2 separate regions of the Homo sapiens genome follow, and region 1 is linked to region 2. The links come from fine-mapping of genetic effects on gene expression. A gene starts in region 2. The other region holds a variant in brackets. All regions are shown on one strand. Distances are between the middles of the regions.

Region 1 (5,382 bases), 44 kb before region 2:
GGGAGGCTGAGAGGCATCTTCCTCACCGAGGGAAGGGACCAGCAGTGTGAGTCTCTCTGCACTCTCTTGGTGGGTGGTGAGGGTAGACATTTCCTTGCGGCAATAAGATGCAGCTTCCTGAGCTCCAGGCAGCAGAAATCCCCCGCAGACCCTGTGCCGGGTCAGTTTTCCCAGGTCCTAATGTTTCAGGGCATGGCTGTGGGAGGAGGGCACGAAGGATGAGTCCAGCACCAGCAATCCTCTGAGAAGCATCCTCCTACTTCCACTCTGTGCACATCTCAGACTGAGCTCCTCCTGGCCAGCCGTGGGTCTGGTGCCTCTCTGCATTCCCAGTGTGGTGAAGGGGTTCAAGGAAGCCAAGTGGGACCATCCAAGACAGAAAGAATGCTGGGGACAGGACATTAGCTCAGACCCTTTATGTCCCCTGAGTACCCTCTCCATGCCAGCACCGTGATTTCACACACATGCAGGGGTGCCAAAGAGAGCTCAGGGTCCCCAGGGCGCCCCAGGCATTCCCTGAACACCCTCCAATCCTCCACTCCAGGAAAGACTTTCCCCACCAGGGAAGGGCATCCTACACTGTTCCCAGCCAGGTCCCCTTCCTGGCAGGCAGTAATTCAAGAATCATCAAGGCAGAATGTCAGTGGTTCCCACCATTCCCTCTCCTCCTCCCTGACCTTCTCCCCAACACAGGAAAAAGACAGGAAGAAAAGGTAGACACCAATCTCTGAATTCTAAACATCAGGACTCAATGTGCCCATCTCTGTGGCTTACACAGGGCACCCAGTCTTTATGTCACCAAGTGAGTTTCCTCAGTCTGTGTGCACAGCCTCATACCTGGCTGGATAGAACCAGAGATGCAAAGTAGAAAAGCATAGGCTCTGGAGCTTCTATCCTCAAGAAGTTGCTCATCTATCCATCCATCCATCCACTCATCCATCCATCCATCCATCCATCCATCCATCCATCCATCCACCCATCCATCCACCCACTCATCCATCCATCCATCCCTCCATCCATCCATCCACCCACCCACTCATCCATCCATCCATCCATGCATTCATTCCAATACCTTCCAATACCCAAATTTTCCAACACACAATTTCAAGTGCTAACTCTGTGCCAGGACATGTGCAAATAACCAGGGAGAGAGATATGAATCAGGTGTGTTTGTGGGGGGTTGGGGGTGGGCATGAACACTGAGCACTCCAGGACTGTATGGGAAGAAGGGACAGGGCAAAATAGGAACCAAGGAAAATACAAGTGATTTAGCTAACTCCGATCATCGGTTTCCATGTGACAGGCATTATTTCACTTGGTTCCTTCAAAATCATTTTGAGGTTTGTAGATGACCATCTCCAAGTAACAGATGACAGTTTTGGGGCTTGGAGAAGTAACATGCAGATAATTTGCACAAGGTCTCACTCTTAGCAATACTAGAGGTGGGAGTCCAACCCGGGTCTGTCTGGCTCTGGGCTCACACCAGCTGTGGTTATTGGAGCCACTCCCATCTGTATCCCCATGAGGAGTCAGGGAAGGCTGCATGGAGGAGGCCCTGCGTTAGCTGAGGCTTGAATGATGAATGGGAGTTTATAGTAATATTTTTCAGATTTATTCTGTGTTTAATTTAGATAATTTCAATTACTATATTTTCAAATTCACTAATATTAAGCCAATTCAATGACATTTTCTTTTCATATGTTGTACTTTTATCTGTGGCAGTTTTATTTGTTTTTATTTTGACATCTTCCACTTCTGTTATGTTCATGTTTTTGAAAAATTATTCGGCCTATTCATAATAACTGTTTCAAAGTCCTTGTCTGCCAGTTCCATAATGAGCTGCATCATTTTGGGGTTCTATCTTTGACGGATTTTTCTCTTGTTATGAGTTACATTTTCTTCCTTCTTTCTACATGTAGTAATTTTTTTTTTTTTTTTAGATGGGGTCTCACTGTCATCCAGGTTGGAGTGCAGGGGCACGATTTCAGCTCACTGCAACCTCCACCTGCCAGGCCCAAGTGATCCTCCCACCTCAGCCTCCCGAGTTGCTGGGACTACAGGTGCACACCACCATGCCTAGCTAATTTTAAATTTTATTTTATTTTTTGCAGAGACAAGGTCTCACCATGTTGTGCAGGCTGGTCTCAGACTCCTGGGCTCAAGCAATCCTCCCGCCTCGGCCTTCCAAAGTGCTGGGATTACAGGTGTGAGCCATTGCACCTGGCCTACATCTGGTAATTTTTGATTGGATGCTGAGCATTGTTTATTTTATGTTGGTGACTGCTGCATTGTATTGTCTTTCTTCAAAAAGTGTTGGACTTTATTCTGATGAGTCATTAAGTTACTTGCAGATCAGTGACATAGTTTGGATATTTGTCCCCACCCAAGTCTCATATTGAAATGTAATCCCCAATCTTGGAGGTGGGGCCTGGTGGGAGGTGTTTGGATCATGGTCGGGGGGATACCTCCTGAATGGCTTGGACCATCCCCTTGGTGATGAGTGAGCTCTTGCTCTGAGTTCACAGGAGATCCAGTCATTTAAAAGAGTGTGGCACCAGCCAGGCATGGTGGCTCATGCCTGTAATCCCAGCACTTTGGGAGGCGGAGGCAGGCAGATCATCTGAGGCTAGGAGTTTGAGACCAGCCTGGCCAACATGGTGAAACCCCGTCTCTACTGAAAATAGAAATATTAGCCAGGTGTGGTGGTGTGCGCCTGTAATCCCAGCTACTTGGGAGGCTGAGGCAGGAGAATAGCTTGAACCAGGGAGGTGGATGTTGCAGTGAGCTGAGATCGTGCCACTGCACTCCAACCTGGCAACAGAGCGAGACTCCGTCTCAAAAATAATAATAAAAACATAAAAAAAAA[C/AC]TAAAATAAATGTGTGTGGCAGCTGCCTCTGCACTAGTGCTCTCTCTCTCTCTCTCTCTCTCTCTCTCTCACTTGTACCAGCTTTCACTGTGTGACGTGCCTTCTCTCTTCACCTTCTGCCATGATTGTAAGCTTCCTGAGGCCTCCCCAAGAAACGAAGCAGATGCCGGTGCCATGCTTCCTGTACAGCCTGCAGAGCTGTAAGCTAATTAAACCTCTTTTCTTTATAAATTACCCAGTCTAAGGCATTCATTGATTTACAGCAATATGAGAATGACCTAATATGGAAAATATCCTACTCTCAGTGCCAATTTTCTGTATTAGGTCATTTTCATGCTGTCATAAAGAAACACCCAGGACCAGGTAATTTATAAAGAAAAGAGGTTTAATTGGCTCACAGTTCTGCAGGCTGTACAGGAAGCATGGTGCTGGCATCTGCTCAGCTTTTGGGGAGGCCTCAGGAAGCTTCCAATTGTGGCAGAAGGTGAAGGGAGAGCAGGCACGTCACAATGAAAGCAGGAACGAGAGAAAGAGAGAGAGAGATCAGCGTAGGGGTAGGTACCACACACTTTTAAATGACCAGATCTCCTGTGAACTCAGAGTGAGAGCTCACTCATCCCCAAGGGGATGGCCCAAGCCATTCACGAGGGATCCCCCAACCATGATCCAAACACCTCCACCAGGCCCCACCCCCAACATCGGGGATTACATTTCAACATGAGATTTGGATGGGGACAAAAATCCAAACCATATCAATCAGTTTGATCTTTTAAGGTTTGTTTTTAAGCTTCCTTAGAGGACTTTTATTATTATTATTATTATTATTATTATTATTATTATTATTGAGATGGAGTCTTACTTTGTTGCCCAGGCTGGAGCGCAGTGGTGCAATCTCTGCTTACTGCAATCTCCGCCTCCTGGATTCATGCAATTCTCCTGCCTCAGTCTCCCAAATAGCTGGGATTAGAGGCACCTGCCACCACGCCTAGCTAATTTTTGTATTTTTAGTAGAGATGGGGTTTCACCACGTTGGCCAGGCTGGTCTCGAACTCCTGACCTCAAGTGATCCACCCGCCTTGACCTCTCAAAGTGCTGGGATTACAGGCATGAGCCACCATGCTGGCCTAGAGCAGTTTTAGAATGGCCCTCTCCTGGGCTGGTTTAGTGCTGGCACTAAGGTGTTTTTCTTCTTGGTTCTCTACTGAATGTGTGAGGTGTTCAGTAAGAATTCCTATTCTGGCTTGTTGGAACTTGAACATCTCCCAGACCTTGGTGAGTTCTGGAAATTGTTCAGATACATCTCTCTGTGTACTATTTACACAGTCTAGTGGAGCTCCACCCCACACATGCATGGTTTAGTGTGCAGCAGTACATGCAAGAGGATCTCTGTGTAGATTTGCTGGGTCTCTTTCTCTGTGCAGCTCTTTCTTCTCTTGTTTTCTACACCAAATTCCAGCTTCTTTTGCCTCTTCAGACTCAGACCCCTATCGCCCAACACAGCAAGACTGCCATGGTCATGTTGGAGTTCTTTTACCTACGTCACAGTCAAGAAAGTGGTAGAAAGGTAGAAAAAGGTAGGCACGGTGGTTTATGCTTGTAATTCCAGCACTTTGGGAGGCCGAGGTGGGAGGATCACCTGAGGTCAGGAGTTCATGACTAGCCTGACCAACATGAAGAAACCCCCGTCTCAACTAAAAATACAAAATTAGTTGGGTGTGGTGGCGAGTGCCTGTAATTCCAGTTACTCGGGAAGCTGAGGCTGGAGAATCACTTGAACCCGGGAGGCGGAGGTTGCGGTGAGCCGAGATCACGCCGCTGCACTCCAGCCTGGACAACAAGAGCGAAACTCCCTCTCAGAAAAAAAAAAAAAAAAAGAAAAAGAAAAGAAAGGTAGGATGATCATAGGACCTACCGTGTTTGTTTTCACTCTCTGAGCGATCATATAGAAGGACTCCTCTTTTCTAACAGCTGAAAACAGATTTTTAATATCGTTTGTCCAGTTTTATACTTCTAAAGTAGAAGGCTATACCTGGTCCTAGTTACTCCATTATGGCCAGAAGCAGAAGCCTCTTCTCCCTCTGCCCATGCCTGTCTTTTGCCCCTCCTCCTCCACTTGGAGCCATTTGGCCCATTTGGGTGTTGACTTTGATGCAAGTCAGGGGTGCCTGCATTGGCGTCTGTGCATGTGGTTGTGGGTGTGTGTGTTTGTATAGTGCCTGGGTATACGTGAGTCCTTAAGGTGGAAGTGGGGCATGGGAATGGGGTGCAGGGGAAGTGGGCTGTGGGAATGGGGTCCAGTGGAAGTGGGGTGTAGGAATGGGGTGCAGGGGAAGTGGGGGATGGGAATGGGGTGCAGGGGAAGTGGGGCATGGGAATGGGGTGCAGGGGAAGTAGAGGTGTGACGGAAGTGGAGAGGTGTGAAATAGCTTCTTGGGAAGGGCAGAGTTCCTCCTTGCTGCTGGGAAGTGTCATTTGGGGTTCTGGCAGCGTTAAGAGCCTCCCCACAACCCCCGCCT
Region 2 (5,382 bases):
CTGGCCTTGGCAAACTGATTCTAAATTATAACAAACCAGAGATGAGAGACTTGCTCCATTCGTTAGAAAAATAATAAGGAATGTAGTGACAGCCAAATGGAAGAGAAAACAATAAAGAAAATAACGAAGTATGTATAGAAGCCTAGGATGTAATAGGGGCACTTCAAATCATTGAAGAGAGGAGAAATCACACACTCATAATTAGCAATGTTAAGACAATTAGATGGTAATTATTTTTAAAAGTTACTTTACACATTACTCACTTCTCTAAATTCTAGGTGGGCTAAAAATCTCAAAGTCAAAACCAAAATAGTAAAATTATTAAAACTCTTTCTGTAATCTTAGAGGTTTCAAGACACCAAACCAGAAACCATAAAGTAAAAAGAGGTTTACAAGACACCTGTGATCTTAGAGGTTTACAAGACACCAAAATCAGAAACCATAAAGTAAAAAGTAATGACAGGTTTGACTTAACAATGAAAACATTTTTATATGACATAAGACATCTTAAACATGGTAAAGAAAAAGATAAGTCATAACCTGGGAGAATATATTTTCAACATATATAAATGGATTATTAATACACGTAATAAATGAGTCACTCCAAAAGTTAAGATGTAAAAGAGAATTCAACAGGAGATGAACAAAAATTTCTCCACATTCATCATAAATGAAATCCAAAAGGCCAATCCACATATAGAAAATGTACAACTTCACCCATAATCAGGGAAAGAAAAAAATCACGCGACATTGAGAATTTCCATACATAATATTGGACAAAATTAGAAGATTGATAATTTCTCTAAAGGTAAATTGGACCCTTTATGCACTACCTTGGGGACGTCAGCTTAGCTCAGCTACTTTGAGGCTGATTTGACAATACCTATTATAATTTCTAACGCACAACCTCTGCACAGCAATTCTGCATTTAGTAATTTAGGCTACAGAAACACTTTCACAGATGTGGAAAAATTAGAAACAATCTAGGTGTCGATCAACGTGAGATTAGATGAATTGTGGTGTACCCATCCTAATAAATGCCACATATTTCTTAGGGTTACTTAACGAGTTAAATCTGTATGTATTATTGTAGAAATTTGGAAATATTCCAAAATACAATATTAAGTGAAAAAATTAGGAATATATATATATATATATAAATAAAATAATCCCATTTCTGTAAAAAGAAAAACTACCATCCTGGCACAGTGGCTCAAGCCTGTAATCCCAGCATTTTGGGAGGCTGAGACAGGCGGATCATCTGAGGTCAGGAGTTCGAGACCAGCCTGGCCAATATGGTGAAACCCTGTCTCTACTAAAAATACAAAAATTAGCCACGTGTGGTGGCTCATGCCTGTAATCCCGGCTACTCAGGAGGCTGAGGCAGGAGAATCACCTGAACCCGGGAGGCAGAGGTTGCAGTGAGCCAAGATTGCACCACTGCATTCCAGCCTGGGCGACAAGAGTAAAACTCTGTCACAAAAACAAAACAAAACAAAACAAAAAACAAACAGGAAAAGAAAAACTATATGCTTGTATCATGCTTAGAAAATGTTCTGGAAGAATACATGTGGTGAAAAGAATAAGCTATGGAACTAGGGAAAAGAAATTGCTGGGGACTTTGTCTCTTGTGCTACATAATTCTAGATTATTCTAATTTTCATGAAGGTAGGTTTCTGTGTAGTTGCTTGTTTAGCATTAAATACATTCCTTATACAACTCATGAATTATCCTGTGGTGTTGGTATATCTGTATACTGGAACAATATAAATAAAACTGCTGGATGAAAAAAAGAGTGACCAAAAGCTAATAGGAAATGTTTACTCATTATAAAATGATTACAAAGCAGGAAAGATGATAGAAAAAAATTAGAATTGGGCTGTACAAAAATATAACAGCAGGGTTTTTGAAGACTAAAAATTGCACATATGCAGCTTGTCGCTAGCACCTGTCTGACAAGGTCCCAGTGAAACACCTGCCCTTTCATTCTCAGGGCCAGTACACACACCTGCACACACCCTGAAGCAGGCACCCCAGATACCCACCCACCCAGCCAGCATACTTGGGTACAGAACACACACACCTGGGCCCCAACCCAAATCAGCAACCCAAATCAGCAGGGCAGAGTGTCATAACTAAAAAGACAGACAGACAGAGAGAGAGACTGAGAGAGAGAGAGAGAGAGAGAGAGATTGCTGGATAGTGCCTGGTATGTCTCTGGGCAAAGTGCTGGGCTCTTTCTCAAGTTCAAAGTGAGCTTCTCAAGCCACACCGCACCCAGCTCTGGGCCTCAGCGCAGCAAGCTTCCAGGTTTCACCCTCTGCCTCTTAGTCTCTCTGCACTCCTGCATCCCCAGACATCCGCACATGCACATACACACACAGGCACACACACAAATGCACACACGGGCAAACACACGAGCATGCGTTCTCTCTCTTTCTAAACCAAGATGTCAGGGACTATCCATGCTCCCCATTCCACAGATGAGGAGACAGAAGCCCAGGGTGGACAGGGGGTGCTCTCACTACCACCAGCATCTTAGTGACAAAGCGAAGACAGACTATAGGTGCCTGACTCCCAGGCCTGAGCTCTCTTCACCCCACTAGGCGTCCTTCCCACCAGGACCAACCAGATCCCGCTAGCGAGGCTGAGTCCTCCCCAGAGCTCTCCTACAACACCCAAGCAGCTTGGCACCCCTGGCTGCCTCCCCATCCACTGGCCGCCCTAGGAGTCTGGGCTCAGGTCATCCTAAGAGGCCAAGCCCTAACTCCTCCAAGTCCCCAGGGCACAGCTACCCACAGGACGCCCCCCAGGCTCCCCCTGTCCTTTTTCATCCTGGACTCCCCACATTCCCCCCTGCTCTGACCCCACCCCTCAGCCCTGCTCCTGGACGCCGGGCCATACCTCTGTGTGGTGGGAGAGACCAGTCTTCTTCTGGAGCCTCTAGGCAGAGTGAGCCTCCCACGTTTCCTATTTATGTTGATGTCATCAGGAAACAGAGAAGCAGAAAGAGGAAGCAGTGCCGGCCCAGGCCTACTTTGCTAATAGTGCACGTGACTTTTCTTACTTCCAGAAAGCCTCCTACTCCAATTTACCTTCCTATAAACTCCTAGGCCTCCTTCAAGCCTCAGCTGACGCAGGGCCTCCTCCATGCAGCCTTCCCTGACTGCTTGATGGGGATGCAGGTGGAAGTGGCTGCAATAACCATAGCTGGTTTGAGCCCAGAGCCAGACAGATCTGTGTTGGACTTCCAAGTCCACTGCTTCTTAAAGCGTGTCCTTGTGCAAATCATCTGCGTGTTACTTCCCCAAGCCTCGGGACATCCATCTGTCTGTTACTTTTGCAGAAGCATCTACAAACCTGGAAGGACTGTTGAGGGAATCCAGTGAGATTCTGTGCAGGAAGACCTTAGCTCAGAGCTGGCCACAGGAGAACCCCCTACAAGTGGTAGCTGGTGGCATGTTGATTTCCCCGATGTCCTCTTTGCCCTGCCGCCCCACCCCACCATGTGTCATATGGTCATGTGTGTTCATGGCTGTCTTTCTTCTGACACTATCTTCAGTGCTGGCTTGTGTCCGGCTTGCACTTCCCTCCCAAATACCTAGCACATGGCCTGGTACAGAGGAGAAATTGCACCTTTGACTGTGTGCAAATGAATAGATGAATGAATGAATGAATGAATGAATGAATGAATGAATGAGTGGCTCCCTGAGCACAGCAGGGCCAGCAGAATTAAGGTCAGGTGAGTGAGGCAGTCTCTCGTGCTCAAAATTTAAACAGGCATTTAAAAATTCAGTAATTGTTGTAAGTAATATTTTAATGCAATATGGTTTAAAAAAATCCCAACTGATGCAGAAACTATTCACGGTGAACCAAATATGAAAAGTTTGAATAAAGACAAGATGAATCACAGTGCCAAGACACAACAAAACGCAGTCATATTTCTCCTACATGGGGCTGCCTCCCAGGAGAAAGGGCAGCAGGCAGGAATGAGGGGAATGGAGGGCAAGAATGAGGGGAATGGAGGAAATGGAGGGGCAGGAACCTGCCTCGAAGCCACTGGAATTCTGGCCTGATTGTTGTTCTTTGCTTTCCTCCTACCAGGAAGGGCAGGGTTGGCCAGGAAGAGCTGGCAGGGCCTCACCCTAGCAGAGAAAGCCCAGGGTAGAGGAAGGCATGTGTGGTTCTCTCAGGCACTCCGGTCAGTGTGAGGTCCCTGCCTGGCATGGAAAAACCCTGCAGGGGCTTCTCCAGGGCTGGAGAGGATGGAATTAAAGTGACGTCCCGGGCTCTCTTTTCTCCCAGGTGTCCCCACTCTGCCTGTCTTTGCTGAGGTCCTCTGTGGGACTGGGAGGCTGCGGGCCTGGATGCCCTCAGGAGCACAGAGGATGCTGTCTGGTGGAGAAACGAAGAACCCGAGACTCTGAGTCAAAATCACTCCGGACACCAGACCCAAAATGTGAAGGAGCTTTAGGAACACCTCAGCCAATTCACTTGACTGACCCTTTCCTTTTAAAAGTCATCATAGAGCAGCAGGGGATAAAAATCTACATTTGAATGAGTCTAACAGAGTTCTCTCAATAAGTATTAAAAGTTCTAAGCGAGAAGAATCACACCGTCAGGAATTCATTGAATGTTTTCGTTTGTTTGTTTGTTTTTTCCTTCAGTGGTATGTAAAATACCGTGTCTTGCAATTGACGATCTTTTAGAGACTAAGAAACCCAAGAAAATGTTGGCAAGAACGTAGTACTCATAATGACCAGGGCTTGAGCATTTACGCTGTGAGCAGACCTTCGGCTGGGGGCTTCTCCATCTCTTCCCAATAACCTTTATGTAGCTGTTACTGTCTTCACCTTACAGATGAAGAAATTGAGGCATGAAAAGGAAGATAACTTGTTGAAAGTAGTAACTCGTATATGTTAACATTGCATTTTTTTCCATTTCCATTTTTATTCTGAAACTATTTCAAAATACAGAGCGTTAAAGGAATGATACAAAGAACTCTCACATACCCTTCATGTGGAAACCCCCTTTGAGTTTCGCTAAGCTTCTCAATAATGGTTTTGTAACAAGAAAATCCATCCGGGACTTTGCATTCTCTCTAAATGCATGGCTCTTAGTTGCCATGTCTTTCGGGCCTCCAGTTTGAAACAGATGCCTTGTTTTTTCCTCGACATCTCGAAGACTGCAGGTTGGTTGTTTTGAATAATGTCCCTCGATTTGGCTCTGTCTGATGATTAGAACTGGGTTATGCTTTTTTGGCCAAAATAGCACAGAAGTGATGCTGGATTATTCTTGGTGAGTCCTATTAGCTTTCATTGTCAATCTGTCCCATCACTAATGTCGTTCGCTCTGATCATTTGATTAACTTGACACCAATCA

The links. PIP is the estimated chance that this variant, and not a neighbour inherited with it, causes the effect. A credible set is the group of variants that fine-mapping cannot tell apart.
Region 1: its variant is the best candidate, but not a certain one, in a credible set for the expression of CSF2RB in whole blood (INTERVAL, PIP 0.52).

The regions. Positions count from the first base shown.
Region 1 is chr22:36,954,706-36,960,087 of GRCh38, reverse strand. No RefSeq gene overlaps it. Among named protein-coding and RNA genes, the nearest start is that of LL22NC01-81G9.3, 7.9 kb to the left of the region's middle. The variant C/AC (reference allele first, on the strand shown) is at 2,867.
Region 2 is chr22:36,911,200-36,916,581 of GRCh38, reverse strand. CSF2RB (colony stimulating factor 2 receptor subunit beta) reads right to left here and starts at 2,954. Exons shown (of 14, transcript NM_000395.3): 1 at 2,905-2,954. RefSeq lists an enhancer at 4,420-5,121.